Linked DNA regions of Homo sapiens. The protein of the gene in region 1 interacts with the protein of each later gene in a pairwise test. Each region holds a gene or a part of one and is shown on either strand. Other genes may lie near its edges.

Region 1 (3,652 bases):
ACTAGATGTGGGGTATGAGGAGAAACATTCTCAAGGTTTTTTGGTCTGTACAACTGAAAGAACAGAAGTGTCATTTACTGAGATAGGAAAGACTCAGTGATAGTAGCAAGTTTGGAGGGGAAATCAAGAGGATTTTAAGGATATGCTAAATTTGAGGTGTCTACAAGTAGATGAATAGTAAGCAGTTAGATGAGTGTGGAGTTCAGAGGAGAGGTCCAGGCTGGAGGTGTAAATGTGGGTGTCCTCAGCATAGAAGTGTTATTTAAAACCACTGGATTAGAGATCAGACAGACTGTGGCATGGATACAGAATACTAACCCCAAGGATACTCCCAATATTTAGAAATTAGGGAAATGAAAACAGCAAAGGAACTGGAAAAGTAACAGCCAACAAGGTTGGAGGAGGACCTGGAGAGAGTGGTACCCTGAAAACCAAATGGAGAAAAACAGTGTTTCAAGAAGAAAATGTCATTAGATGTGGATGAAATAAAATGAAGATCTGGGAACTATTGGGTTTAGCTAAGTCTTTGCTGACCTTGATAAAAACAATTCCAGTCAAGTGCTAGGGACAAAAACCCAACTGTAGTAAGTTCAAAAAGAATGGCCTGAATTTGATCAAGCCCTTGGATCCACTAGCAGTTTACAGGAAATTCAAAGGATTATGTTAAATTAAATTGTAAAGATGGAACCAGCAAAATCCAGATCGTGAAAAATTCTAAAAGGACAAACAGCCCATAAATTGCAGAGGAGAAAAACAAGGAGAGAAAACTTACCGATTAAGACACTTAAAAGACATATCGATCAATCACAATGTGTAGAACTTATTTGGATTTTGAATCAAAAATTTTTTTTAGGCTGGGCGTGGTGGCTCATGCCTGTAATCCCAGCACTCTGGGAGGCTGACGCGGGCGGATCACCTGAGGTCAGGAGTTCAAGACCAGCCTGGCCAACATGGTGAAACCCCGTCTCTACTAAAAATACAAAAATTAGCCGGGCGTCATGGCGCATGCCTGTAATCCCAGCTACTCAGGAGGCTGAGGCAGGAGAATCGCTTGAACCTGGGAGGTGAAGGTTGCAGTCAGCCAAGATCATGCCACTGAACTCCAGCCTGGGCAACAGAGTGAGACTGTATCTCAAAAAAAAAAAAATTTTTTTTTAAGGCAAACAGTTTAAAAAATAATATGTGAGACAAGTAAAAATTTGAACAATGATTAGAAATTTTTATAAGTGATTATTATTTTGCTGTGATAATGGTACTATATCATGAGTCCATAACTTTTATAGTTACTACTAAATATGAATAAAATCATATTATACCTAGAATATGCTTCAAAAATATAAAAGAGGGAAAAGTAGAAGAGAAGCGATTGGACGTGGGTTGATGACTGCGTTTGGGTGGTGGGTACAATAGAGTTTATTATACAGTTCTGCCTATATGTATACATCCTAAATTCTCTATAGTAAAATATCATAAAAAAGAGAGAAATGGCCATTTCCTTTGCATGTGTCATCTCTTCTTACTATCCCATTGTACAGATAAGAAAATTAAGGTTAAGGAAGATTAAATGCACTGCCCAAAGTAGCAGTTAACTTTTTCTGATAGACTATTTTAGGGAAGTTTTAGGTTCACAGCAAAATTGAACAGAAGGTAGAGATTTCCCATATGTCCCAGGCCTCCTGCCCTGACATACACACAGACACCCTACTATCAACATCCTCTACAAGAGGAGAACATTTGCACTCAAACCTATACCGACACATCATTAATAAATTTCAGTTAATTTAAGAGCCAGAATCTGTCTCTAAAACCCATGTTTTTTACACTATATCATACTGTCAATTTTTTTCTCCATGGTCATTACTTTACCTGGTGCTTTTTAAATAATTTGGCACAAAGCAAAATTCTGTTGCATGAATAAGCAATGAACAGAATTCTATAGATACTAATCAAGTTTAGTATCCAGAAAATATTCTGGATATTTTCATAATATCCAGAATATTATGAAATATTTACATTACATAATAATGTAAATTAGCAGATGAAACAATTCTGTCAATACAATGAATTATACTTCCAATGAAGCATATTTTAGTTATTTAACAAATACATACTGCCCACTAGAGTTGGAAATATAACTACACAGAAATACAAAGCACTATCTGGACTTTCTCCCTATATCAAACTTTTCTTTCAGCAGTTATTGTATGTACTGGATAATAACTAACCAAACTAAATTTCAAACATAAAACCATACATTTCCAAAGCATACATGTGTCCATGTTGTTCACTCATCTAGTAATCCAATGTGTACCAGTTGGAAAGTCTAAAGCTAAACAATAGCCTACAGCAAATGTGACTGATGAAAAAAAACAAGCAGTGAATAAATCAAAATCAACTATAACATATACTATAGCCAATTACTAACTTATAGATTTTCACTGGAAACATTTTCTTTAATATTCATGGAATACTGTTTCAATAATTCTACTTCTAACAATTTATCCAAAAGCAAGCACTGGACCAGTATACAAACACATATGTACTAGAATACTTACAAAGTTTTAGTCATAATAACAAAAAACTGGAAAAAATCTAAACCACTATCAATGAGACTGATCAATATACAGATAAAATTAAATGCTATGTACTCAGTATAAATTATTATACTATTATATAGATGTAAGTAATGATATGGGAAAGATACTTACGACACATTACTAAGTGGAAAAAGAAGGTTAGAAACAATTCGTATGATAAATATATGGACAGACGGATGGATGTCTGGGAAGATATACAAGAAAGAGTTAACAATGGTTTCATCTGGAGGATAGGATCATACTTTCATCTTCTATTTGAGACATTCTTATATCGTTTGTTTTTTAAAGTAATAAACATGTAGTTATTATTTTATAATTGGAAAAAGAATGCATTTTTGGGCCGGGCACAGTGGCTCATACCTGTAATCCCAGCACTTCAGTAGGCCAAGAAGGGTGGATCACCTGAGGTCAGGTCTGGTTCAAGACCAGCCTGACTAACATGGTGAAACCCCATCTCCACTAAAAATACAAAAATTAGCTGGACGTGGTGGCGGGCACCTGTAATCCCAGCTACTAGGGAGACTGAGGCAGGATAATTGCTTGAGCCCAGGAGGCGGAGGTTGCAGTGAGCCGAGATCATGCCATTGCACTCCAGCCTGGGCGACAGAGCAAGACTCCGTCTCAAAAAAAAAAAAAAAAAAGAATACATTTTTGTTTTGGAAAAAGAAATATATTGTGTTGATCTCAAAATCTGACTTAATGAAATGTCTCTGATTTTATACATGTTAAGTCTGCAAAGCTACGTAGTAAACAGCATGGAACTTCAGGAACCTCCTACCTGCTAATTCCACTTTTTCATTCAATGAATCTGTCCAAACATACCGCACTTATTATTAGGCTCATTACAATTAAATAATCACTTATAGAACATCCAGCCAGTTGAGGGTTAAGCTTATCAGGTGGCAGTATGGGAAACAATTTATTTCTTTTTTTGAGCAGAATCTCGCACTGTGGTCCAGGCTGGAGGGCAGTGGCACGATCTTGGCTCACTGCAACCTCCGCCTCCCAGGTTCAAGCAATTCTCTTGTCTCAGCTTCCCAAGTGGCTGAATTACA
Region 2 (3,752 bases), on another chromosome or scaffold:
AATCGGGTTAACTTTCTGGTATTTAGTTTGCAGATATGTCAGCAGGCCACCTTCTCTACTTGGCAGGATCACGATGTATTAAGAATCCTTTTGTCCACCAGGAAAGACAAATTTCCTGTTTGTCTTGCATTTAGATGCAACAACATCATCCTAAAGAGATGCCCCTGATGTGTGAGAGCAGAAAGGGGTGATCCCTTTCTTCCTTATCCTAAGGCTCACGGCCAACACCCCTATAACAAAAGACAGGTTAACAAGAGAAAAGCATGACAAATTTATTTGATCACGTTTTACATGACACAGGAGCCTTCATTCAGAATGAAGACCCACAGATACAGGGAAAACTGGATGGCAGTATAGAACTGTAGTTGGACAAAAAGGGCAGCAGCCCATGTTCGCAGGCTGAGGGGAAAACCCAGCAAGGCCTGTCTGTTCAGATCCGTCTTGGCCCCTCTGTGCAGCACTCCTTCCTCCAGGCACCGGGGACAAGACTCCTCTGGAATGCGGGTCTGGATTTCTTTACGGCCCACTGTTACACAGAAAGGCAGCGGGGAAGTTACAGTGGTATTTCTAGGCTTTCTGGCTGGCTTTGGGGAGAAAAGAGTCTGGTTTCCACGAGCTGCTTTGAGGAAGAAGGATTCTCAGTTCTATGGCTTGCCCCGGGGGAGAATGATGGGTGAGAGAAGAGACAGGAGGGCAGGAGAAGGTCAGAGAGAGAGACTTTGCTTCTGAGGCCTCCACCTTGGGGCATGGATTTCTGAGCCCCAACAGACCTTGACAGAAAAATCTAGGACACAAAGATAGTGGCTTGGACACACCTGCCTGCATTTACACTTGACCTGTCTGCGACGTAAACACTTTCCTCTTTCCCTCCAGATGGGTTAAGGGGAAGGACACTTCAGGGTTGAAACGCAGGAATACCAGATTGGAGCAAACACTTTTTAAAAGCAGAGTTATAAAATCTGGACAACATCAAAACAAGCAGCCCCAGCATGCATCCCGACGGCTCTTGTTGTTGGTTGGAGAATGAGCCCAGCAGTCAGGCTTGCAACCCACTTCGAATCTGGACCAGGGTTCTGACACGGATCCTGGTTCACATCACGCTGGGCCTTGTGGCCAAACACGTGTGTTTTCTCCATAGGGCCTTGAAGAAAAGCTGGCGGTGCGCATGAGATAGGAGTATATTAAGTTCCTGGCTGCTCGGGGCACTACGGGAAGATTACTGGGCTGTGATATGGGCCAGCACTCAGATTCCCTGCGGTGGGACACAGAGGGCGGGTTGTTTGTGCTGCTGGCGTGGAGCACCGACAAGCCTGTGGAGAACCAGTTATAATAAACACGACAGGCATCCTGGGAGTGAGCTCAGGGCATTTGGGAAGTGCAGAAGGACATGCACCCCCGCTGGAGGGGTGCACCTTTGAAGTCAGCTGGACCAAGGAAAGGCCCTGCCCTGAAGGCTGGTCACTTGCAGAGGTAAACTCCCCTCTTTGACTTCTGGCCAGGGTTTGTGCTGAGCTGGCTGCAGCCGCTCTCAGCCTCGCTCCGGGCACGTCGGGCAGCCTCGGGCCCTCCTGCCTGCAGGATCATGCCCACCACCGTGGACGATGTCCTGGAGCATGGAGGGGAGTTTCACTTTTTCCAGAAGCAAATGTTTTTCCTCTTGGCTCTGCTCTCGGCTACCTTCGCGCCCATCTACGTGGGCATCGTCTTCCTGGGCTTCACCCCTGACCACCGCTGCCGGAGCCCCGGAGTGGCCGAGCTGAGTCTGCGCTGCGGCTGGAGTCCTGCAGAGGAACTGAACTACACGGTGCCGGGCCCAGGACCTGCGGGCGAAGCCTCCCCAAGACAGTGTAGGCGCTACGAGGTGGACTGGAACCAGAGCACCTTCGACTGCGTGGACCCCCTGGCCAGCCTGGACACCAACAGGAGCCGCCTGCCACTGGGCCCCTGCCGGGACGGCTGGGTGTACGAGACGCCTGGCTCGTCCATCGTCACCGAGGTAAGAGAGTGAGCTCAGGGCTCAGATGGAGAAGCAAATGGTGGAGATTTTCTCAAGGAAGCAAGCAGGGAAGGCCCGGCTCTTATAAACCCTGCCTGGACATCTCTTTGGCCTGCATGTATCTTACAAAATCCTAGTTTCCAAATGAGAACATGCAGCTTCTAATTTGTCTGGAGAATAACTGGATTAGTTAAAACGTCCTCAGATGCTGACAATAATGATTCTAGTTTGTGCATGTCCCAGCAATAAGGAACAGGCCAAAGCATATTAGGACTCCTGGAAATGTTGCCAAGATAGGGATATTGTGGATCCTCCTCTTTTTCTGGAAGCCTTACCTCCCCCTCTATTCCTCCATCCCGCAGATGCCCACACACACCTGAAAGCCCGTGGAACTCAACTGAACTGTGCCTGACTGTGTGATAGGATGTGCTTTTCTCTCGATACCTATTTTTTCTCTTTAATTTCCTCAAAGTGTTCATATAAAATCATTTGGGGCTGGAGATCATGCTATGGCACTATTATTTTGTTAAAAACTACAGATGACATCAAAAGCTATTTGTGAAGCCTGATTCCAATAAATATAATAGAAAAAAAGACAAAAAATGGAGCTTGCTTTTATTGAAAGCAAAGCAAAATAGGGGAATTAAGTTACCTGAAAATACTGAGAGAGCCAGTTGCCTAGTTTAATTTAAAATGACTGCTTGGACAATGGGAAGATATTCTGTGTGAACAGATGGGTAGGTAGAGTCTAATTTGAAGGGTCTAAAGTGGTCAGATATTTACAGGAAATGTGGCAGCTCATGGGCTTCACACCACAAACTCTCCGAGGCTCTCTCACATGGCCAATCTCATTGCTTCCTACAGAGATGAGGAAACTGAGGCCCCAAGCAGAGAAGGTTTTTCCCCAGGCCACACAGTGAATAACTTAGCAGGGTTAGCCCTAAAAGATGGGTCTCCTGACCTGGTCCAGCACCTGCTCCACCCGACCACCTCCTCTTATTCCAAATAAGAGCAAATGCAGCAGCCTTCAGCAGTCACTCCTAATCCCCTTTTATTAAACAGACAGCAGGGAGATGCTAAATGGCCCAACCTCCTGGTGCCTGCATTGTATCACGTCCACACACCTATCTGCATGTGCATTGAAATTAGAAAGGAAAAAATAAATTTGTCTATAAGTAATTACCCAGTTTCAGCTGATTTAGCCAATGCTGTAGTTTTAGCTTCATGACAAATTGCCAGATGGAAGGGCAAGCCTTTTGGTTATGTAAAGAAAACTGAGGCTGGGCACAGTGGCTCACGCCTATAATGCCAGCATTTTGGGAGGCTGAGGTGTGAGGATCACATGAGCCCAGGAGGTCGAGGCTGCAGTGAGCCATGATCACCACTGTACTCCAGCCTGGGTGACAGAGCAAGACCCTGTCTCACAAAAAAAAAAAAAAAAGAGAGAGAGAGAGAAGAAGAAGAAAATTGGCATGATCAAGAAACAATGGCTTATTGCCACTTAACTATACAGTTCAATTCAAGGAATATTTAATGAGTACCCTAGCTGAGTTATGTCCAACAGGATTCTAACAGGATTTCATTTCCTTTCTCTCCCAACTTGGAACACTTCTCCCCTGCTGGCAGTTTAACCTGGTATGTGCCAACTCCTGGATGTTGGACCTATTCCAGTCATCAGTGAATGTAGGATTCTTTATTGGCTCTATGAGTATCGGCTACATAGCAGACAGGTAGGTTGAATCACCTGTGGTGGAAT

What was found. The genes of interacting proteins can lie anywhere in the genome.
Region 2: the proteins of AGO3 (region 1) and SLC22A2 interact in a two-hybrid assay, tested with the Homo sapiens proteins (one large-scale study listed by BioGRID and IntAct).

What each region holds. Positions count from the first base shown.
Region 1 is NC_000001.11:35,937,567-35,941,218, reverse strand, and holds part of AGO3 (protein argonaute-3), read right to left. Parts: intron 1-3,652.
Region 2 is NC_000006.12:160,256,588-160,260,339, reverse strand, and holds the start of SLC22A2 (solute carrier family 22 member 2), read left to right. Parts: upstream 1-1,518; 5' UTR 1,519-1,582; coding exon 1,583-1,996; intron 1,997-3,622; coding exon 3,623-3,726; intron 3,727-3,752. UniProt on the Homo sapiens protein: Electrogenic voltage-dependent transporter that mediates the transport of a variety of organic cations such as endogenous bioactive amines, cationic drugs and xenobiotics. Functions as a Na(+)-independent, bidirectional uniporter.